Linked DNA regions of Homo sapiens: region 1 is linked to region 2. A link means that fine-mapping ties the variant in region 2 to the plasma level of a protein whose gene starts in the linked region. Region 2 holds a variant in brackets. A gene starts in the other region. All regions are shown on their forward strands.

The links. A credible set is the group of variants that fine-mapping cannot tell apart. PIP is the posterior inclusion probability: the model's chance that the variant is causal. Protein levels are from antibody-based Olink assays in UK Biobank. Linkage for the fine-mapping came from a reference panel and not from the study's own genotypes, which makes the PIPs less certain.
Region 1: it holds the start of CALB1, and the variant in region 2 is the best candidate, but not a certain one, in a credible set for the plasma level of the CALB1 protein (UK Biobank, PIP 0.50).

The regions. Positions count from the first base shown.
Region 1 is chr8:90,077,890-90,090,331 of GRCh38, forward strand. CALB1 (calbindin 1) reads right to left here and starts at 4,990. Exons shown (of 11, transcript NM_004929.4): 1 at 4,730-4,990; 2 at 4,137-4,213; 3 at 484-558. The coding sequence starts at 4,808.
Region 2 is chr13:71,764,361-71,776,802 of GRCh38, forward strand. The region is part of intron 1 of DACH1 (dachshund family transcription factor 1); the gene reads right to left. Among named protein-coding and RNA genes, the nearest start is that of DACH1, 97 kb to the right of the region's middle. RefSeq lists an enhancer at 7,488-9,738. The variant C/T (reference allele first, on the strand shown) is at 6,597.

The DNA.
Region 1 (12,442 bases), not on the chromosome of region 2:
GCCATGAAAAATAAGGACTGTAAATATTTCACAGGGACTGCAAACATTTTATTTTATATTTTAAAAGTCAAGTCTACACTGTTAAGTGATAAGAAATACTGATGGACCATGTGCTTAGACACTGTATGGAAGTGGGGCTGGGTAATGGAATGTGATTGATACTCATGTAGAAGTCAGGGACTTGTTCCTCTAACTGCACCTGTGCCAGCAAATAGCTGTATGACCAGAGGCAAACAATTTTGTTTTTCCATGGTCTCAATTTTGTAATATATGAAATTTAGGCCCTGGGTTAGGAATACTCTTAGATGTTTTTCATTTGTGAACATTTTTTAACTTTATACTTCTGAACAGAAGATAATGTATTACTTAGGTAAAATAAACTGTACTGAATGGGTCTTGCTATATCTTACTTGACTTGAAGACAACTTCAAAATTGAAACTCATTTATTAAAATTAAATCAGAAAAATGCATAAATTCCTTACCTCTACAATTCCTATTTTTCCATCATCTCTTTGCCCATACTGATCCACAAAAGTTTTCATTTCAGGTGATAACTCCTAAAATTATATAAAAGCAGGTAGGAGGTTTGTTAAAAAAATACCAGTTATGCTTGTGATGGTGTTAATAACTTACTGCAAAGAAAAACCAAAATTAGAACCATTTAGAAATATGCATAATGATTAACTATTCTCAAAAAAATTAAAGGCATAACTGATACACAGTATTTATTAGTTCCAAATGAAAGAGTTGTAATCATGATTATTTCTCAATTAATATGATTTATCTTCTATTATTAATTTTGAGACTATGCTATCCTTTGAAAGTGTAGTCAGAATCATTCCATTCATAACTTTTAGTGAATTTTAACATAATCATCACCATCAATATATTTTAAACAATGCTTGCTTCATTAAAGATTACCTTATATTGCTACACTATCTTGTCTTACAACATTTTTCTCATTCTAACATAATGTTTTATCTATGGAGAGTAATATATGTTTTCATTTTGAACAAGCAAAAAATGTGAATGTTAAAGATTAACTCACTTTGTAAGCAAAGATTGTTTTAAGCATAAAAGAGGCATTCATCAATTAAATAAATTTAAAAATTAAATAGATTAGAGAGCTATGAACTATAAACTAGTGATCTGAACATAGAACTGGTATTCAGGAGGTTTAATTTTTACCCTTGGGTCTCCAACATAGCCCATTTAAAATAGCCCTGTTGCATTAGCTGAAGCCTATTTAAAATAGGTCAGCCCTTACTAATGTTCTATTCTACGTCCTTGGGAAAGCAAATTAAGGTCTCGGTTTTCATCATAGCTAACAAGATGGTGGTATTATCTACCACACAAGTTTGCTTTGGGGATAGATAGGTTAATATAATTAAAGGGCTATATTGAGACTAAATATCATTATTACTAGTATTTATAAAAGCCGTTTGGAACCAATGTAGACATCTTTAGTTGAACTAAGATAATAAATAATAACAAAGCAATATAATTATATTTTAGTCTTTATAAAACTTACTATGGATAAATTACAATTTGTATTTATCTAATTTTGTTATAGAAACAATTGTAAGAAAATGAAAGTGTTCAACCATGGCAATAGTGGGAATATCAGGTCCTACAGTTTTTTTATTTTTACATACATCTTAACGTAAACAAAAACCAAAGCATCTGTCCTTAAATTTTAAAATGGTGTAATACCACTACTTTCACGAGCAGACTTGACATTTACTTTGTGAAGTTTCTGACAAGTATGTCAAAATCTATTTTTTAAACAGTGCAAAACATATAATCACCACCAATTAAAAATGTATAAAAATGAGTGCAACTACAAAGACCAAACACTATGTTTAGTGTAAAAGGATAGTTTCTGAAAATATATTGCATTGTTATATTTAATTAATGTTATATTCACCTAGTGAAAATTTTGAAATTTCATGTTATTAATACGAAAAGCCAAACAATGTTTCCATTAATGCAATGAAATCTGTTATCCTATGGCTAGAAATGCAAAAAGCCTGGTTTATAAGGGCAATTTTTATGTTCTAAAGAAAGAGAAGAAATATATACAAGTAGGTTTAATGCAATGAAGTTAGTAGTATAATGAAACATGTATCTACTATATGAAACTCTGAATCCACATCTTGATTTAGATTTTAACTACCCAAATCAAGAAAAATACTAAATTCAGAAAAATCCAGATTGTATTTACATTCCAGAAAAATGCTCAAGAATCAAGGTATTAAGCAACTTGATATAATCCTATAACTATGCTTGTTTAGTATCATTACATTATAGTCTAATAATTGGAGCTTTGAATATTCCAAAACAGAGAAAAATAATTAAATTCTAAATCTCCAACATGAAGATATTGCTTACAAAAAGGTACAAATATTAAAATCAGAGGAAGAAAAATATTTTTTTAAAGTTCATGAATATTTAAATTTCTAAGCTGAAAATAGATTTCAATATTAAAATTACTTCTGCACAAAATAAAATATAATCATTACCTGCTGGAAGCATCTTCCAAGGTTTTAATTCTAAATTTTATGGAAAGTAAGACTTTTCCAACCTGATTTTAAAATATGTATTTTTAAATGAGGAAGATAATTGCTTTTATTAGATTAGCCAAAGATATATAAAGCTATAATGACAGTATTGCATAAATTTATTTACATGGCAATATATAAGACATGGGGAGGGTGGAGAGTATATAAAACATTTTTATGCTATTTTATTCCGTTCTATTATACTTTTAGATTATATAATATTAAATCTGGGTAAAACAATCCCTAGAGCACAATCTGGTTTAAAATCAATTTGGTCAATGATTTTTGTAACTGATAGTTCTATAGTGCATTATAATACATTTAGAGCCCTCTGGGATTCTTTTGAATATGCTGTACAGAAATGTATATTACACAATTTTCAATTTAGATAGGGCAAAAAGTTCTATTATTAAATTTTATATATATCACTCAATATTAGAGGTGGTGATCTGCTATATAATATATACATCATTGGTAGTGTAAAATCTCTTTCTAAACGTAGTCAAAAAGGCCAAAGACCATTAACGTGTAACTCATCCCAATTCAACACTGCCTTCTGAAAGGCAGTGTTACATAAACCTCAATAGAGTAGTACAATTTTTAACCCATTTTCCTCTGGACAACCATCTCATCTATGTTTAAAAGCTGACTGTATTTTATATTTATGCTGACAACATATTTTCTTAACAGGTTAATTTATGCCCAAAGGGAGTCATTTATAATTAATAAGAATGGTTATTTGTTTAATTAACTAATGGCTTAAATAACGAACATAGCCATTTTCAAAACACCATCAATTGCTGCCCATCAGAGTATCACTTTGCTTTTTTTACAATACATGAAATTCTTAAAATTGTTTTACTTTTTACTTCTCTACCTTTTGGGTTTCTTGCTTTCAACAGAAATGAAGATCTTTTCTTGCTAAATTCTTTCTCACTGTTAGGTTGCAAGTTGGGCAACTTACCCTTAGTGAGGACAAGATGTTTTCTCATCTCCCCAACTACATCAACATCACAACAATAATAATTGGTGATAGAGTAAGAGATCCATAATCTGCAGATCTGTTTCTTGACCACCAAGGGGCAGAAATGCATTTCCACCCCCTTATTTCTCACACAGTAAAAGAGAATTTAAAAATTACCTAATCAAACTCAGTGGTAGAGGTGGTGATCCGCTAAAGAATCTCATGCACCCACAGTTCCCTTTTAAGACCTATTAATGCAAGTACTAGTATAGAATATATATATATTTAAAGCTCCAGTTTCAGATAGCAAGGTTTTTCCCTTTAGAAAATCTGTCTCTCTCTGTCTGTCTCCCTTTCTCCCTTCTTCCCTCCCTTCTCTGTCCCTCCCTTCTCTCTCTCTCTCTCTCCCCCTCTCTCTTTCTCAGTCTCTTTCCCCTTTCCCATTTCTCTGTATTCGAGTTGGAAAAGTGTTTTTTCTTGCCTTTCGCAGTCAATAAACGTTTACATTACCCAGAAAGCGCTTTACGCTACTGGCTTTTTGTGAAAACACAAGAATGTTTTAATTTGGGGGTTAAAAGTCTTTTTTTCTTTTTCGCAAACTTGAACCTACCAATCCAGCCTTCTTTCGCGCCTGCTGGAGCTCCTGGATCAAGTTCTGCAGCTCCTTTCCTTCCAGGTAACCACTTCCTGCAAAGACAAAGAGGCACCCAGGTGTCAGATATCTCATTCCAAGTGTCTTTCCCGTTCACTTTCCAAGACAGTTATCTTTCTGGCGACCCGAGAGGCTCTCTCTTGCCTGGACGTTGATTAACCAGCAAAGTGTACAGACGGTGAAGCGCTCCCCTCCTGGGGTATCAAACTTTAGATCCACTGAGGACAAAGGAGGATGGTTGGGGTGCTAAGCGCAGCCACAGAAACTTTGGGGGGGCAGCATTCCCCAATCCCTGCTCTCTCTCTCCTACCATTACCGTTCCTGGAAAGACAAAAGTTTAAGGTTTTGGGATTACGGTGGAAACAATATAAACTTTCAGGTTGACAGTTTGGCGGCCAGTCGGGGAGATAAGAAGATAAGATTAGGCAGAAGGGGGAAGAAGTAAAGAATAGAAAGGAGGGATAATGGGATCAGGAGGCTCAGAAAAGGGCAAAGAATGGGAAGGGGCATGGAAACGGGTCTTGAAACAGTTAAAAAGAGAAGATAATCACCGTCAGCGTCGAAATGGAGCCAGATCTCGAAAAACTGTGAGGCTGTGATGAGGGATGACTGCAGGTGGGATTCTGCCATTGTACAGCGGGGTGTGTGTCTGGGTGTGTGAATATGCGTGTGTCTGTGTCCGCGCGAGGGGGAGTGAGCAAAAGCTCAGCGTGTGCGCGAGTCAGGGCTGCGGAGGGAGACCTGGGCGCGGGCGCTGCCGGGCGCTGTCCTCGGTGCTGCTCAGCTCAGCGTTCCTCCAGAGTTCTCTCCCTACACCCCGCACCCAGTTCTCAGTATTTATCCCGACGGCCCCAAGCCGGGCCACGCCTCCTCCAGCCTCCCATTCCTCACTCCCCGCCTCTTGCTCTCACCAGCCTTCTTCCCCTCCCTTCCAGTTTTCTGCTCTGTTCCCAGGAAAGCTAGCTGGAGCGAGAGTTTGGGCTTGTTGGAAGCAGCAGGTGGTGGGAGATCCTTTGCTCAGAGATTGGATGCTGAAAACAGAGGCTCATTTCCCCCTACATCCTCCTAGTCCAGGAAGAATCTTATTCCTGAATATTATAGTAAAACTCTTGTTATCTAGAGAGGTTTAAATGTTCAGATAGAAGGGGAAAGCTGATGACGGGTAAAATCACATAAAAGATTATTATATTCTTGTGTGATTTCTCCAAGACTTTTCAGTATTTGTTTGAAAAAAAAAAAGCATGTGAAACCTTGGCACGCATTAGAATAATTTGATTAATGTATACAATGAGTTGATTGCTATCAATAATCACTCTATTTTGTGCCATCATGTCAATGTTTCTTAAGATGGTTTCTATGAACTAACCTTGCCAACACGAAAAAAGCTAGATTATGGATTTCTTTTCAGCATGAAGTAGAATTATAATTGGAAAGTAATACAGTTAAATTATAAAACCTTAAAATCTTAGATAAGGAAGTCATCTTACAGATACTAGAGTTTACTGCCTTTCAGTTTAGAAGGAGTGAGTAAACTAAAACAAAGAGAAAGGAAGGATCTGACCAGGTTCATAAGTAGGTACGTTAGTGCTACCACCACAGCCCCATTCAGTCGCCTTAACACACACGTCTCCTTCTTTCTGTTTCAAGCAACCCCTACTGGAGAATTTTTCAGAAATTGGAAGTCACCATCAGAGTTGGAAAAGCTATCTAACTAAATGTATGCTATGTTATGTATATATATATATATATATATATATATGTAATATATATGTATGTATACACACATATGTATATATGTTCTGTACTATATATACATATGTATATGTGTTATGTATTTTAATATAATTAATTATATACTTGGATTATTTCTTATTTACATAAGTACTTCTGGAGTATTTGGCTTTGAGTCTTTTGGACCTTGAAGTCCACTAAAAATGTATCCCAAAAGTCTAATTACAATTGTACTAAAACAAAATGAAGGAACAAGAGAAAATCTACACATAGCCAATATAAGCTTAAAGTGAATTAAAATGAATTTACCGGCCGGGCGCGGTGGCTCACGCCTGTAATCCCAGCACTTTGGAAGGCCGAGGCAGGCAGATCACAAGGTCACGAGATCGAGACCATCCTGGCCAACATGGTGAAATCCCGTCTCTACTAAAAATACAAAAATTAGCTGGGCATGGGGGTGGGCACCTGTAATCTGAACTACTTGGGAGGCTGAGGCAGGAGAATGGCTTGAACCTGGGAGGCGGAGGTTGCAGTGAGCCAAGATCACGCCACTGCACTCCAGCCTGGTGACAGAGCAAGACTCTGTCTCCAAAAAAAAAAAGAGAGAGAGAGAATTTACCAAGCTCTATATTCTTAACCTTGTGTAATTGAGTTTGGGACCCCTCAAATTTATGTTTTTGAGATTAGGGCTCTATCCATTATTATATTTGTGGAGTTTTTTTGTAAGTATCCTTTTCAGAGACCCATCAATTTGAAGCTAGCCTATTTCAATAATCTTCTTAATGGAATCCTCACTTCCATAGTACTTTCCAGTTCATACATTATTTTTACTTATGATACCTCATCTGATTCTCACTGATGGTCCTATTGGTCCTATGTTAGTGGCCAGGGTCGCTGTGTGAAAAATATAGTGTGTGAACTTGGAGACCAGCGCTAGAGAATAAACTTTGAAGAGAGAGTGAGAATGCAGTGACTAAGGAATGACTTGAAGAATCACTCTGACCCTTGCTAGTCTTGACAGAGCTAACAATGTCTAGACTTTGGATACAGTTCTGAGACAAAGAAAAATGCTAGAAAAAGTATGTAGGAATATGGACTGAACAAACTGATGAAAAAAGAGCAACATTTCTACTATTTTAAAAAGTAATTAAAATTAATTTTCTTCCTAAAAAGAGACCACACACTGTGGTAAAAATTCCTAAACATTTTCACCATAATCTGTTTGTTGGTTTTTTAGAATTTTATCTTAACTTCCAAAAGTATTACAAGACAATTTGTAAAAGTTAAAAATATTTATATGAAAGTAATCTTTTTTCTTATTCACTTTCCTGAAGCTATGGCAACTTCCAAATTTCCATTTAGAAATGTATAGGTGCTGTGACTTGAGAGAGAGTGAGAAATAAATGGGAGACTTCCTTGGAACTATGTCCAAACAGCAAGTTTGGACATAGTTTTTTTTGTGTGTTCTTTTTATGTTTATATGAAGTGGCTTTTGAGGGAACTAATGTAGATTATGGAGCTCTAAAGCAGTTTAGTGCTGCCCCTACCATGAGGTAATCAACACTAAAAGAGCCATGCTTATGGAAATATACAAATCCATATCTAAAGGTTTTTTTTTTGTTGTTGTTATCTGGTTTTACAGAAAAGGGACTATGTTTTGTATATTATCCTTCAACTTTCTATTATTAATTCAAGGGCATCCCTCCAGTATTAACATCAACATCTAATGTATACTTTTTACAGTTTAATATTTTATTAATTAACTATAATTACAGATATACGGATCTATTTCTAGTAGTACACTGTGACACACAATGCTGCAATAAACACCTTTATACATTTATATTAGCTATACATGTTTCTGAATACAACAGGGCAGAGTCCCAAAAGCAGTATTTTTAGTTAATAGAATGCATATTTTAGATTTTAATACACATTTCCAAATTATTTGCTTCAATTTGTAGCAATTTATACTCAAATGTCCAAAGTCTGAGGATGATTTATCCTCATTAACTCTGAATGTTATTGCTTTTTAAACTTTATACTAATGTAATAAGTAAAAAGTAGATTGTTATTCTTCCTTTAATTTTCATTCAATATTAATTTTTTAAAATTTACCTTTTGGTTTTCTAAGGTGAACTTGTTATTCTTCAGATATTTTTTCTAATGGCAGAAATGTAATTTCATAAAAAGTGTTTTCCCTTAAAATTGTTATTGGTCCTGGACTGTCACTTCAAATCAATATCTCTTTTCAGATGTATATTTGGGCCATTTCTAGATTAAATTATACTTTATGGTAGTAGTAAAGAACTGTATAATCCAGATCTACAGATTTGAGGTAACTTGAGGAATATTTCTTCCCTCGTTCATTAACTAGGTAGGAAGGACCTTGCGCTCAGGAATCTTTTAATTTCTAGGATTCTGGGGAGACTACAAATGCTTTCAATAATGAGAAGATTTTTCCATAAGATTGGAGTTTCTAAAAACAGCATTGCAAACAAAGCATTTTTATGACTTGCTTTATAGGCTTCATTACACAACATCAAGGTGAATGGGTTCATAATCCAATATTGTTACAAAAGTAGAAGCAATTTATGTTCCAAAAAAAAATCTCTGGGGTAATTAAACTGCATTTCCCATTTCATGTTACTGAATTACCACATCTCCATTCATATTCAGGCTACCACAGTTCCAATTCACTATGCAAATTGGAAGACTTAGAACTTCCCAGGTTTAATGAATGCTTTCTTAGCCTCCACTCAGGAAAGAAAACCCTCCAAAATATTTTACTATGGGTTTAATTGGATGAGGAGTATAATGCATCACTCTCTCTTGGCATCCTAGTCCCTCACGGAGGTGTCCTTAATAGATGAATGAAGCCTGCTGGGGGAGTTCACAGTTTTACCTATTAATGTTCCCTGAAAGATCCCTCATCAGCATGATACTGCCATTTGAAGAACTTTTCCCCCAAAGCGAGGGATTTGCATACATTTGGTCAGAGAAGTCTGTCGCCTGGGCTGGCTAGGTAAATAATTATTTCATTCTGGGCACCAGAAGTTTTTTTTTTTTTTTTTTTTAAACTGACCAAATGTAGCTCATATAGGGCACAGTAGAAAGTCTTGGAAACAATGATATGTGGCAAACTGTGGACTGAAATAGGAAAGTGTGGCTTGGAGTTGCTGCCTGCAAGTATTTGCAAGGCTTACATAAGAAGAGGTGGCAGATTTTCTCAGAGACACCAGAGGTGACTTTTACTGCCCTTTAAAAATACTTCTCAAATTTGAGCTCTTCTACAGCAATGGGTACTACTGCATGAATGGTACAATTCCCCCATAAGAACACTCATTCACTTACTCAGAAATATTTATTGACTACAGTATATTATTCAGGATGCTACCACAGTAAGCAAGACAGAGTCTTGGACCTCACAGGATTACAGTTTGCAGGGAAGAATGTAGAAGTAGAAGCTGAATGGCCAGCTTCTACTGGGAGTGTCTTGGAGGGGATATACACACTGAGGGTGTTTTGACTTTATAAATTCTGTGATCTCTTCCACCTCTTTAATTCTATAATTTTGTGACTGTGCCTACTCTGGTAGTTTTGTGATAAGTAGTATGCATTTGCAAAATTGATTTCTAGAAAGGATTATAGACTGTGGCCTTGAGCAAAAATGATTTTCCTGGTTATTAACTGGCACACTTGGGATAATTTTGAAGTCCTTGGCCTCATTAAATTCATCTAACCACCTGAATTACAAAAGCTAGAAAATACTGTTACAAATATTTTAATTTACATTAATTATATTTTCACTCTTCAAAGATAGAGAATCCCCTCATATATAAAGAAAAAACGATATAAAAATGAGTCAGATTTTATAGTTTTTATGTAGTTACCTAAAGTCATCAGGCTTCTGCCATTGATACCAATTTTTTCATCAATTTTAAACTCCACTTTTCATATTTTATCTCTGATATGTGATGCATCTTATAGCCAATGCTCTATAATTGGCAAATTGATATATGATAATCATGCATCTTAAATCGATTGTATTTTAAACTTGAGCAAATTTGTTAATCTTCAAAAATTTCAGTGGGTACCATTTGCATGAAGAATAGATTTTAAGTCCATAAGCCTGGACTCCAAAGAACTTTGTAATATATTTTCTGCCTTATTTGCAACACTGTTCTATAATATTCAACTCTCTAGTCACAAAAAAATAAAATTTAAAAAATCTTATATATTTTGAGAATGTCTTTGCTCATGTTATTCTCTTTTTTGGGAAATTTCCTTTCCTTCCTTCTTCAGCATTTTTCTTTTGGAGTATTATCCATCAGCAGCCTTGCCCAGGTATAGACTGTGCCAGCTTGTTCTCTCTTGGCCTCTCGCCAAGGGTAATACTTCTGTCTGTAGAGTATCTTTGAGTAGTTTGCTATTCTCTGTCTTCCCTGCCTGGACTCTCAACTATTGGACAGTTATTTATAAAGTGGTTTCAAAGGCCCAACTTTAAATCCCTCCTTAGACAACCGGTTGGTCCCCTGCTCTGGGAGATAACCATATTGATACTGAAGTTAGTGCAGACATCCAATTTGCATAGCACACTGTAGCCCAGAACCCTTGAGCTGAAATGATCCTCTGTCTCAGCCTCCCAAGTAGCTGGGACTACCAGCACATGCCAACACACCTGGTGAGTGTGCTCTTTCTAAAATACATACATGACCATGTCCTTTCATCCAGTGGTTTCCCATGGTATGGCATATGAAATACCCTCTAATTTCACTTGTCCTCTGATATCAGTTTTCTCAATATTCTCCCCCCACCTCATTTTTTTTAAGGCTGTACTGAATTACTTGCTTTTCTCCAAATATTCAGTTCTTTGAATATTTTTGTCTGCCATTTCCTCTCCCTCTAATCTTCCAGGATGAAGAATCACTACATCTTAAGCTTTTCCTGACCTTTTCTTTTGTTGCTCAAAACTGATCATTCCTTTATTTGTACTTCCACTAACCTTGTACTTACTTTTATTATAAAATTTATTACATTGATATACCTTTAGGATTGTACTTCTCCCTTGTCCATGAGTCCATAAAGACAGAAATGAAGTGTTCCTAATTTTTTGTCTCCTTTGTGTCAAATATTGTGCCTAGTACATAGTGAGTGTTTAACAAGATGTTAAATAAATTAACTGAGAGTTAGAATAGTAAGATTAGCATACCATATATTAATGACCTCAAGGAAGGACAATACTTTATTGCAGTGGTTCTCCAATATGGCTGCGTATTAGAATCACTCAGCTTAAAAAAAACTCAATGCCCAATTGTAAGAATATTAAATCAAAATATCAAAGAATGGGACACAGACATAAATTTTAAAATTATCCACATGGTCCAAATGTGCCAGCATCGTTGAAGAACACTGCTTAAATATTTAGTAGTTTTAATAGATTTATTGAAAGTTCACCCATTTTAAGTGTATAATTCATTGATTTTTTAATAAGTTTATAGCATGGGAAACCACCATCAAAATACAGTTTTAGAACTTTTCCTTCACCTCCTGCATTTATATTAGGCCTGCTGCTTGTAAATCTCTACTTACACTCCTCCAGCCCCAGGCATCCACTGATTCACTTCTGTTTCTATAAATTTTACTTTTCTGGACATTCTATATAAATGGAATCATCCATTGTGCAGTCTTTTGCATTTAGCTTCTAATGTTGTTAAGGTTTATCCACATTGTAACATGTATCAACATTTCCTTACTTTAAAAAAAAAATTTCCATAAGTTATTGGGGTACAGGTGGTAGTTGGTTACATGAGTAAGTTCTTTAGTGGTGATTCGTGAATTTTTGGTGCATCCATCACCCGAGCAGTAGACACTGCACCATATTTGTAGTTTTCTATCCCTCACCGCCCCACCTCACTCTTCCCCCTAAGTCCCTAAAGTCCATTGTATCATTCTTATGTCTTTACGTCCTCATAGCTTAGCTCCCACATATCAGTGAGAACATATGATGTTTGGTTTTCCATTCTGAGTTACTTCACTTAGAATAATAGTCTCCAATCTCATCCAAGTCACTGCAAATGCTGTTAATACATTCCTTTTTATGCCTGTGCACTATTCTATTGTATATCCCTTACATTTTTATTACTATTTATGTGCTCTATCTATACAATAGTATTCCATTTTATAGATACAGAATATTTTGTCTATTCATTTACCAGTTAGTAGACATTTGGATTGCTTCCTGTTATGCATTATTATAAATAATGCAGCTATGAACATTCACATACAAAACTGTGGGCAAATGTTCTAATTTATCCCGGGTAGGTTATCAGAAATAGAATTGTTAAACCATAAGATACATTTAGATTTAACTTTCAAAAAATTTTTCAAACTTTTTGCCAAAGTGGCTTTATGATTTATAATCCTTTCATGCACGTCCATGTGAAGAGACCACCAAACAGGCTTTGTGTGAGCAACATGGCTGTTTATTTCACCTGGGTGCAGGTGGGCTGAGTCCAAAAAGAGAGTCAGCG
Region 2 (12,442 bases):
CAGCCACTACATTCCAGCCTAGGCAATAAAGTGAGAGCCCATATTAAAAAATTTAAATTAGGATAAAAAAATTGTAAAAGAATTATAATACATTTAATTATATAAAACTATAAATGTTATAAATGAGATAAAGTATTCAATAAAGGCACAAAGAAAAGAAAACATAAACAGCCCACAAAATTTCTAAATTAAAAATAAGTGGAAGCAGTGATGAAGTCTCAGAATGCTGTTTGTCTTGGGATGTAGTTCACTAGGGTATAAGTCTCGTAAGTTTTCACTCCCCATATCTAATAATTGCTTGGCCTACTGCTGTGCTCAAAGTACATGCTCAATAAATATATGCACAATGCAAAAGCTCTTATTTTACTTCTTTACTTTTACAATCTGAAGGTATGCCAATGTGGTAAATATCTGATGACATATCCATTAGGAGAACTCTTCTGCAGATTAATTTCTTAGGCATCTTGACAACTGTTTACATCTTGAAATATACGATTGGTCTTTGGACTTTGGACTTTAAAACAATGTAATTTATTGTCTTTTTACATTTTAACCATGCTTCCCTTTTTTCAAAGCCTCCTCTCCACTCTTTCCTAAAAGTAGATATTACTCAAGATTTTATCTTTAGCTCTTCCTTGTCTCTCAAAATCCTTATACCCAGAAAGTTCCATTCATTCCAATTTCCAATCTTCAAGTGAGGTAAGCAGGGGTCCCCACTGATACCAATACAGTCTACTAACCCTGGATACCAGCCCCTGATTATTCTACCGTTATCTCAAGTGCAACATTTCCATGAATTTGTTATCTTTTTCCTCATTCTGTATTCCCTTCCTGTTGCACCATCCATCAAGTCATACAAACCAGGCATTTGGAAGACATTAACTTATGATTTCACCTGTTCCATCTATCCTTGCCTACCCACAAGCTTCTAATCTGTGACTAAATTCCATGGGTTCTACCCCTTGAGGCACTGTCACGTCCATCTGCTTTTCCCCATTTTTGTGGTCACTGTTTCAGTAAAGGCTCTTTTTATTTTCCACAGGGACTGTTATAATAATCTTCTAACTAGCCTTCTTGCCTCCATTTGTAGTACACTTTCCAATTTGTCCCACAATGGGATGCTAGAGTCTTACTTATACTATGCAAATTTTGTTATGTAATGTACTGTCTTAAAAATCTTCCATATTTCCTCATTCTTTTCAAGATAAAAATCTAAACACAAGAATAAATGAGAGCCATTATTATCTGGTTCCTGCCCATTTCTCCAGCCATCTTTAAACAGTAATAATGATGGTTATCATAGGATGTGCCAAGCACTGTTGAAATGTCTTCATACACTATTTTATTTACTCTTTCTAGCAATCCTAGGAAGTGAGATTTAAGACCCCCAGTTTTATAAGTAATGTTTCCATAACAACTAACATCTACAGTCATGGAATAAGAAAATGACCAAGCCAGGATGTGAAACAGAGTCGGTCTAAATCTAATGCTGTTGCTCAAAAGGATTATTCTTCTTCTTCTTCATTTTTTTTTTTTTTTTTTTTGAGACTGAGTCTCGCTCTGTCGCCCAGGCTGGAGTGCAGTGGCGCGATCTCTGCTCACTGCAAGCTCCGCCTCCCGGGTTCACACCATTCTCCTGCCTCAGCCTCCTGAGTAGCTGGGACAACAGGCGCCCGCCACCACGTCCAGCTAATTTTTTGTATTTTTAGTAGAGACGGGGTTTCACTGTGTTAGCCAGGATGGTCTCGGTCTCCTGACCTCGTGATCCGTCCGCCTCGGCCTCCCAAAGTGCTGGGATTACAGGCGTGAGCCACCACGCCTGGCCTCAAAAAGATTATTTACTATTTCCCCTAAATTTCCTACTCACCTCTCCTTCTCATTCTCCATCTGTACCCTCTTCTCTTCAGGTTGTCACCTGTAGCCTTTAAGTACCTTAGAATCTATAATCACTTGTGGAGATGTTTAAAATTCCAATGGCCGGGCTTCATTCAGCTCTTGAGATTCTTAAGGTGAAGCCTGTGCATCAGAATTTTTTTAAAGCAACCCAGTTTTTTCTAAGGTGTAGCCAGGTTTGAGACCTACTGCCTAGCAAAACTAAATTATATATAGTTGTACCAAACATAATGTAACCTCCATTAGCCCTGATCCCAGTGATTGTAACTATTTCTCCCCATATAATTGTCTGTAGGGAATGTTTGGGCTTCCCACAGCTTCATGGCTCCCTTCAATTTACAATTGACATGACTGGCAGTCAGTAGACTGCCAACAATAACTTGTAAAATAAATAATTGAATAAGACTTGTTGATTGCTCTTATAAGTACTTTGTAGGAATTCTTAATGTAAGCACTGAAAATTAATATCTTGAAGTTCCTTAAATTTTGCAGGGCAAAGGGAGGAATGAAAGCACTGAAAAAAACAATTTCAATACATGAAATTATTTACACATAAAATGTGTCAGTTTCCTCCTGAGAAAAGGCTTAAAAAAAAAAAGCTCTCACTTAATTAAAGGCCAAAAAAGTTTTTTTCCCCCAAAGTTTTAAACTCATTAGCATCTTGCAGATATATGTGAAAAACTATAGTCTAGATAAAGATAACAAAGACAACAGAGAGGTCTTGTTTTCCTAGTTAACACCCTCCTCTCCTCAGAAAAAGGTGACTTTAAAAGCTACATCTTTATGCAACTGCCATTTTTTCCCCAGTGACAGAGTACATTTTCCTAATAATTAATTACTTAGTCATTGGCAAATTAAAACATCATATTACTTTGCAATTAATATATATTTAACACTGTTTATCAATAAATTAAGTTAATATTAATTATTATCAATATAATGATTTAAGTTTCTACTATTATTTAAGTTATTCATATAATTTTTGAGAAAACACTTTAGAGGTTTCTTCCATGAGGTTTTATTAAAACTGTTATAAGAATCTAAAAATCTTGTGTTTCTGCTATTATGTGAAAAATCTAAGTTATAGTATTTCAAGGGGCGATTTGGTGGGGGAATAAAATATCTAAGAATATAAAGAGAATCTGAATGACCACATAATAAAAATTAATCATGGTGAATTGCTTTGGGGAGAATCATACACTTGACCCATATTGAAGACTGAAATATTAATCCATTTCTATGACAGAGATCAAGCTTCACAGTCGCTTTTTATCCTCCTCATCATAGAAGCAACAGTTGTAAACCATAATGTTATAGTTCAAACAATGCCCCCCCAAGACTCCAAATTTATTATAGCATTCATCTCCAAGACAAAAGACCTGGTGTAGGCAAAAAGCTCTTTATAGCAAAAAGCATGGTTGTTATTTATGGCTCAGATGCAAAGAATGAGTTTGGGGAATTTATCAGAGATGAAGGTATGAAATGTTTTAGCTTGTTCTTCCCTCTCTAATCCATAAACCATTTTCTCAGCCACCCAAGTGAATTCTAATGGAACAGAAATGATGAAATAATATTTTCCTAGCCCTTTAACACTTTTCCTTCTGTATAAGTTTCAGTGGGATGAGAAGAATATGTTTTATAATATAATTAAAAATATTATAAGTAGCAATGAAGCAATATTTTAAAATAAGATATAATTTAGCTCCATAGGCAAAGTTTAGCATTTTTAAAAAGTTTAATTTTTACGTATTGAATTCTGCAATTTCCTATTATTAGTAGTATTAAGAGTACTATGGGCTATCATATAATTAGAATTTCAGAATGTTAAGTATATTCTCATTAAAATCATTTAAAGAATATAAGCCCCATTATTGTCTCTCCAGTCCCAGCGATTCAATCACATTACTTGACCTCTTTCTTTTAATATTCTTCACCATTAATTCTACCTTCATCGTCACTCTCCTTGAATAAGACATGCCATAATCAAAACAAAGATGACTCATAGATTACCTACTTTCCATCCTCACTTTTTGGAACAAGTATAAGGCCACAAAAAGATGTCGATTTCTCTAATGACTAGGCCAGGGAGAAAGCTTACTGCAGGTAGGAAGGTTTAGGATGTGCCAAGATGTGATGAAAGTTCATGCTTTATTCTTACAGATTGCCTTTCTTTTCTTTCCTCTCTGGCCTATGTCAGAAGGGTGTATTGCTTTCTTATGATGAAAACATATTCAACAAATGTGACTGGAAAAAAGTATGAAATGTATTAATATTTGCTCTCAAATAAATAAGATGTTTTTAAAAGTGTTGCAGTTACAGTTCTACAGCCCTGAGCACACTGTGAGCTTCATGGATGACATATTTTTTCTTCTCTAATTCAAAAGACAGGTAATTGTAGAACAAAATAAGGCAGCTCAAATAAATACAGAATAATCTTTAAGCTGGAAAACTTTTCTGGCATTGTTTGATAGATGTTATACTAAATCTATTGTTTGCCAAATTCCATTTAAATTGCTTAAACAGCTCTAGGAAAATGTGGACTCTGTCTGTACAATTTTTAACATCATAATTTGCAGAATTAAAAACAATCCACCACTGAGTTATTTGACATCACGCATTTTGATTGCACATTTTCTGAGTCTTGGAGCTTTTTTTCTCTTAGTTGTGATACTATTTCCTTTGCTACAATTTTCATCTGTATTACACTACTTTATCTTGACATGGAAATAAAAGTTAATTAGTTTCTATGACAACCTGTGCATTAAACATAGCAGTTCTCTCAGATTTGTAAATACATGCCAACTTAGTATTCAGAATGCAACTTGTATAAGCATTCAGTACAAATAGTGTGAGTTTGTTTGCAGTTAAGATAGAATAGCAACTTGAGCCAGATGACATGATTCATTTGAGTATACAGCATCTGTGAAAGATGTCCTAAATTTGTCATCTATGTACCACATACTCTTCATATTTAAAGCTACAAATGCCTTTATAATTTTTTTTTCTTAACCACATTAAAGATTCCATATAAAAACTCTACACTAAAAATCTTCTAGGTTTATTCTAACAAAGTGCCAAAAATAGACCCTTCCATTTAGCCTATGAAGTGTTGCACTCTCTCTAAAATAGTAGTTTTCAAACTTTTGTGTGCAATAGAAACACCTGTGGAACTTCATTAAAAATAAGAATTTCCAGGTTCTGCTCCTAGAGTGAGAAATTAAGTATATCCAGGATGAGACCAATAAATCTACATTGTTATCAAGCACCTTGGTTGAGTATCATGTGCACTTTGTGAGGGTCACTTTTCTGAAAAATAGTAGATTGTATATCAGACAGTTTTTAACCAAATGTAGTAAAAGATACTTTTAAATCATCAAGTTATCAGCATACCAAGATTTTAAAACCATTGTGAAAAAGTACTCCTTATTCTGTACTGAGAGTATAAAAATCACAGTTCTCACAGCATTCGTTATTCTAATTTCAACTTTTTAGAACAATAAATGATAATCTCATAAAGAAATCCTCCAGAAGACCAAATATATCAGTTATTGGTTGAAATTAGTAATATGTGACATGATCTTATGCATAAAAACCTTTCACAAAAAGCAGATGATTTACATGAATAAAAAAAGAGGCTAAATTTTACTATCCACTATTTTCTATGGACAATATTCTTTTGCCCTCATGGCAAAGGCAAGCTCTAATACATTATGCTTTGGGATTCTCATCAGAAACCTATAAACAATGTATAACTTACAAATGTCCTTCAGTGCATTAGAATACTTTTAGTACAGCTTTAAAATTTTAAATCAATTCTGCCATTCACTCCATATTATTTATCTTCAATTTCTCCATATTTTAAATGTCACTGTGTCATATTAAGTAATAAAAAGTTTAAAAGATTATAACCTGAACTTGGCAGATATGCACTTTCATTACAAGGCCTGAAATCCTTGCCTTCGTACGTTTTCTCTACCAGAGTCTTACTTCTTATCTTGTTTTCATTTTTGAATGCAATGAAATCTTCACACTCACCGAACAGTCTAAAGTATCAACAATGTTATTTTAAACCAATTCTAATAGTAAGTTAACGGTATTTAAAATATTTGGCTCTTAATCAGACTATTTTGTCACCTCTTTTAAAAATTATCCTATTATACAATATCAGCTGAAATTATCCATCATTCTGCTAGTCTTAAATCATCCTTTAATTCTATCAGTTATATTATTCACATGCCCCGTAATCCAGTAACATTTCATTTTCTTCAATCTGAAGCTCAAGAAGGAAAGAACGCATTTAAAGATTAATTTTTATGTATGCTCTTGTAACAAATTAAAACTAAGTGACATAATAGGCTTTATTATAAGAAAATTATGTGTACCAAAATGTGCTTGGGTAGAAAACGTAATTTATTTTCTCAGAACGTCCCCCTAAAGTAGGTGTTGTTTTCATTAAGTTTTTTTGCCTTTTAAAGGCCATAAGAAACTGAATTAACTAAATCTAGTAAATTCCATGTAAGCATTAAGTAACTCAGAACTCAAAGACTTATGGCAACAAAACTATGTACAGAATAGCCAGGTGCCTCTTTCCCTCCAGTGCAATACTGATCTTTCCTTGACTACATGGTTTTTGCTGTGACACCACTCTCATTAGATTGGAATTTGTGTTAACTTCCCTGTACTAGGACTTACTAATAGGATTG[C/T]TAGCAATTATTATACTGAAATGAAATCAGCACAAACTATTAGATCTGTTTAAACAAGTTAAAAATAAACCTTGATTAAATGTTCTTTTATAAGAAGCTGCTCATTAGGGCTACATGGCCTTCAGAAAAATTGGTGTTTCATTAACATCAAAGAATGTACTCAGTTTAAACTCCCTAGCCTAAAAAGTTACATAGAAAATAAAGTTTTAAAAATATTTTAGATAATGAAATTTTAGGAAAGATCTTCCTTATAGCTCTTGGTTTAGTCAATAGAAAGAAATATACTATTAAGAATGAGGAGTATTAATAATGGAATTATGAAGAAGAACACCACCAGCAAATGCAAAAAGAAGCAAAAGGATAAATAAATAAATAAATAAATAAATAAATAAATAAATAAATCTTTGCCAGAATGACCAAATGACAGATTTCTTCTAAGCTGAGATACAAGTCGGCCACGAAATTGTTGAATTAAAAAGTCACTTAGTATTTAAATGCAAATCAGTATGTCAATTTAAGTATCCCTGCATCCATTTTTGCAACTAATCAGTAACTTTTGAACCAAAGTAGAACTTACAGAACTCTAGAAAGGGCAAGTATCCCATTCTAGAAAGTAGAAACAACATTTTTCTTGTTACAAAGAATCAATGAACTGTTATGACCTGATTTGGTGGAAATTATTCTGTTGTGATAGATAACCTAACATAATTAAGATATAGTGTTGGTAAATGTTAAACATTTTTATGGGCTACAAACTCATAGAAAGGATTTGAGTAAAATTCTTATTATTCATCTTCTTATATCCATATCATTACACACACACACACATACACACACACTCTTTATCTCACTAAGAAAAGGTAAATATTACTGTATAAAGGTAAATGTTAGTTACATAAAGGTGGGTTACCATTTATGGTTGAAGATGAGTAAAGGATGAAAAAAAAAAGCCACTATAATTAAAAGTCCAAGAGAATCATCAAACATTGAAATTCACAATAACGTGTTATCTAAAGTTACTGGCAAGTTGATCTATTTAAAGATTACAATTTACTATCCTTAAAAGGGTTTTAAAATAAAATAATTCATTTTCTGAACTGTACATGTATTATTCTAAACAAACCAAGCAGTAATTACAACTGTAAATTAATCTCTTCATATAGACTGATATCCTCTACAGTATACTTGCCCCTTGCCTACACAGTAATATGAATATGTTCTGATGTTTAAAAGGAATAAACCTTCTAGTTTGAGTAATTAACATTCCTTAATTAAACATACTAAGGAATAGACAATGGGTTCTTTATGAATATGTGAGCATGCCTAAAAGCAACAAAATCACACTTTTGTTAAAGCATTTGTGTGTATTTTGCACAATTTTTAAAAGTTTAACCTCTGTAGATCAATGTGCTTCCTTAAAAGACTTTAATAAATTAAAGTGCAGAGAGCTTTTTTTCACCAGGCAGAAAAAGCTGATGAGACAGGTTTAGTTTAATCTCAGGCAATAGAAGTCATTAACCATTCTCTCAGGGATTAAAATATAGCTTGCCCTTTTCTTCTCTCACTTATCATTAGCATCACTTTAATCTCCTAGCGTTTCACACTGCTATTTTAATCATTACTTACTGCCTTTTGACAAGTGCAGAACATGCTTTTTCTCATTGAGGCAATATCCTGGTTTTAGCTGACAAATGTAGGACATAATGTAAAAATATCAAAGTGACATCTCTTAAACACACCTTCATCATAAAAACTCTAAAGTTACAATATTCCTTTGTCTAGTATTTCCATGAAAATTATCATTTGAAAGGTTTATATCTTAAATAAAGAAAAAAGTTTCTTCCAAATACAACAAAAACTAGTTTAGAGAAATAGTATGCTGAATAAATGAGATCTAAAAATATGCACATACATGTTATTCTTACTCTCTAAAATGTATACTCATGAACTGCCAAGTGTTTACAAAAGCAAAATGTTGTTTCGATATAACTATAATAACAAAATATGCTATATTGAAATGCCCACCCAATTACCATTTAATGCTTTATAATGATACTACATAGTACATATATCCTAGGTTGAGCAAAGTGCTGCAATGATTATCCCTAATTCTATTATTTTAAAATATGTACCACACCTCTGCTGATTGATAGATACTATGTAATTCTTGCGGAAAATTTAGGTAGAAATAACAATAGTTACAACCATATTCATATGTAACATCTGAAAACCTATTAAGAGTGTTACTACTGAACTTTCCGCTACATTTTCAAAATTGCTAGTTTAGATAAAAGAAAAACCATATGATGTTTGTTAATGTTCTTTTATCTAATGACATTTAGTTTAATTTACAGAATCTCTTTAATCTAATCTGCCTAAACCTGAAGTGGATAACAAATTTGGCATAAGTCTTTTGAGATCTGTGAATGTAAGTTTTATATTGTCTTTAGATATAAATATTACAAGTCTGAGAATATATTCTAGCATTAATACTGTGTTCTATTTTAACTCAAAACTAAACCAATGAAATGTTTGGTAATTGTAAAACCTGACTTTTTAAACCAAAGCACCAATTTTTGGTAACGATCACTAACACTTGGCCCCAAGACTTTTAATCTAGTCCATCTGTAATGATCTCATAGTACTTTCAACCATTATTTAACTGTTAGAAGAAAAAATATGTCGCACTATATGTTTCGACAATAAAATCCCTTCTTAAGCTTCACAAAGCAGAACAATTCATTATTTGATCTCTTTCCAGGTTCAAAGTCTGTCTTATTACAGTACTTCAAAGAAATATGTAATCAAAGACAAACAGCTGTGAAAACAATCTTTTATTACTTTATTATCATTGAGAATATATCTTTGGAGTAAACCAGTGGAAATAGCGTACAAATAATCTTCATAAAGGTTGTTGTTTTGCATTTGTTCACAAACTATGCATGTTTATCTTTAAGGCTTTAATTTTACTTTCTATAAATAGAATAATGGCACAGGCCAGTCACTCTATTGCCTGTTTAAAAAAAAAAAAAAAGGAACAATAGCAACAACACCACAAACAAGTTAGCTGCTCCAATGTCAAAGAAATGTTTTTAATAAACAAATTTTCAAAATGATATTCAGTGATGTGACTCCCTGGGTTAACATTGCCCTGAAGTGAAATTATTTTTTTCTGGTGTTCATATTAATCAGTTAGATTTGCAGAATTAGTCAACTACAAATTGGTATACACAACTAGAATGCATACACCTAAAGTTCCACTGAGTATTCTGAAAACAGATGCAAAATCAAGCAATTAGCTTCTAAGGTAGAAGCTACATTGCCAAAATTATCTTCATATTTTACACATCACACAATAATCTGGTCATGTCTATATTTCTCAGTATGGAGGGTTTCTGTTATCAACATGCAAATAGACTGGACAACATAACATAGTGTTCTTTAAATGGGAATGACTCTCTTCATCTGCAGCCTTGTGAGACACTGTAGGTTTCAAGGTAGAAGTGATGAAGTCCTGCCATCCCACTACAGTAGAAAACATGTGGAGGCAGAAGGAAGAAACACCTCCTGAGTGCATATTATATGGTAGAAACCGTATAATTTAGTTATGATACCAACCCTTTGAGGAAGTCATTATTTATAATCCATGCTTTACAGATGTGGAAACGGATTTTAAAAGCTTAGTAACTTTTGACTCATTCTTGGGTTAATCAGACTCCAAAGTCAGTGTGCTCATTGTATTAGATCAGAATGCTGTCCATTCTAGAACACACTTTCTAGGTACATGTCCTCAAAAGGCACTATAATCTCTAACAAATCCAACTCTTCTTCAGAAAACCATAAGGCATTATGGTAGACAGGGACAAAATAGGTCACTGTCATTTTCTATGAAACTAAATTGATGATTCATCAACACAGGCCATTGTTAGAAAGATCATTGTTCCTAGGTCTTTACAAACATATCGCTAGGCCAAAAGTGATGTGAAATCGGTGCCATCTTGCTTACCAAAAGATATCACTGAAAGGTGCTACAAGAATGCTCCCCTAGCAGGGCATAGTGGTTCATGCCTATAATCCCAGCACTTTGAGAGATGGAGGAAGGAGGATCTCTTGAGGCCAGAAGTTCGAGACCAGCCTGGGCAACAGAGCAAGACTCCATCTCAACACAAGCTTTTTTTTTTTTTTTTTTTTTTTTTTTTTTTAAATTAGCTAGGTGCTCGCCTGTAATCCTACCTACTCAGGAGGCTGAGGCAGGAGGATTATTTAAGCCCAGGAGCTTGAGGCTATAGTGAGCCATAAATGCATGCCACTGAACTCCAGCCTGGGCAACAGGGCAAGTCTCTTCAAGAAAAACAATTGCCACCTCAAATTGACAAACTGAAGAAGACAGACAGATAACAGTTATTCTGGTGCCATGGCCATATAGACAAACCAGGTAATTAAGGCTGTGATATAAATTTTTAAAAGATAATGGTATGTTCATTTCACTTTCTACTGTCTTAGTACAATCGCAAAATGATTTAATATCTTTGTATTGGTTTTAAAGTTTTGTCTCTAAAAATAAACATAGATACATATATAAACAAATGCATATTCACACAAAGATATATACATTAGCTATGATATGTTCTTATGTATTTATATGTAACATTGTCTTAGTTGTAAAATGTGAAGTCTAAACTGAATATAGTTGTCACAGACATTCCTTTATATTATTAAGATTATTTGAAGGTCACTGACAGAGGAAGGAAAAAATAACACAATGATAGGCAGTAAACAGAACTGAATTTAAATTTTTTGTTATTGCCAGTAAACATAACTGAAAAATCTAACATCATATTAGTATGAACATTAGTATTTTCAATTTTAAATAATACATTAAAAAATTCCTAGAGACTCTTTGCCAGCCAAGTGTAGGGATAATGGAGAAAATGGAATTGCTTATTTGAAGTTATGATCCTTCACTTCATAGCACAACTTGGTTTAGTTTTATTGGTTACTAAATAAGCAGTATAAGAATTAAAAATGAATTTAAGGCATGACTCAATTTCCATAAAAGTTAATTTCTTGACTTTTCAGTTTGATTGTTATCAAAAGTTATTCAGTAAAAGGGCGCAAAACAAAGCCAGTCACTCCAGCTTTGGAATAATTAAGCAGTAATTTGACCAAACATTTCCTTCCTTCCTGTGTATTTCTCAAAGTCACTATTACACTATAAATTTTAGCAGAACCATTTTTAATGGGCACAATCTATGAGGGAAATAGTCCATAGTAAAATGTTTCACAACCAAGGTTGGCAACACCATTATGAAGTCACTTTTTACTGCTATTTTTAGGATGTATTCAAGATAAACTTTTGATTTTCAGGTTTTTAGAAAGGTCAGATTATAGAAGTGAGAGTTACCATGGCTAATTTTGACATGTAACACCTATGTATAATTGAGTTTATTAATTTTGGAAATACCTAAAGAAAAGTTAAATAGTATGGTATTATAACTTTAGATGTTATTTTAATGCAATATTTTCTTAATATATTGATTAATAAAGAATTAGATCAGTTAATGCTAATTCATTGTTTCCATTTTGGGTGATGCTATAATAAGCAATAAAAAAGGAGAAATAACAGTCTTAATTCCTAAGAGTCCCTGGATCATTTGCTTTCATTGAAAAGGTATCATTCATAAAGTCATGTGAAATAATCTTATACAGCTGCTTTTTCACTTTTTGAGGGTACCTTCTTACATATCATTTCATTTCATACTGAATAAAACATATATTTAAATTTTACTTACCCAGATAGAAAAACTAGCATCTTTTCTACACCCCAAATAAACCCTGCTGTTGCT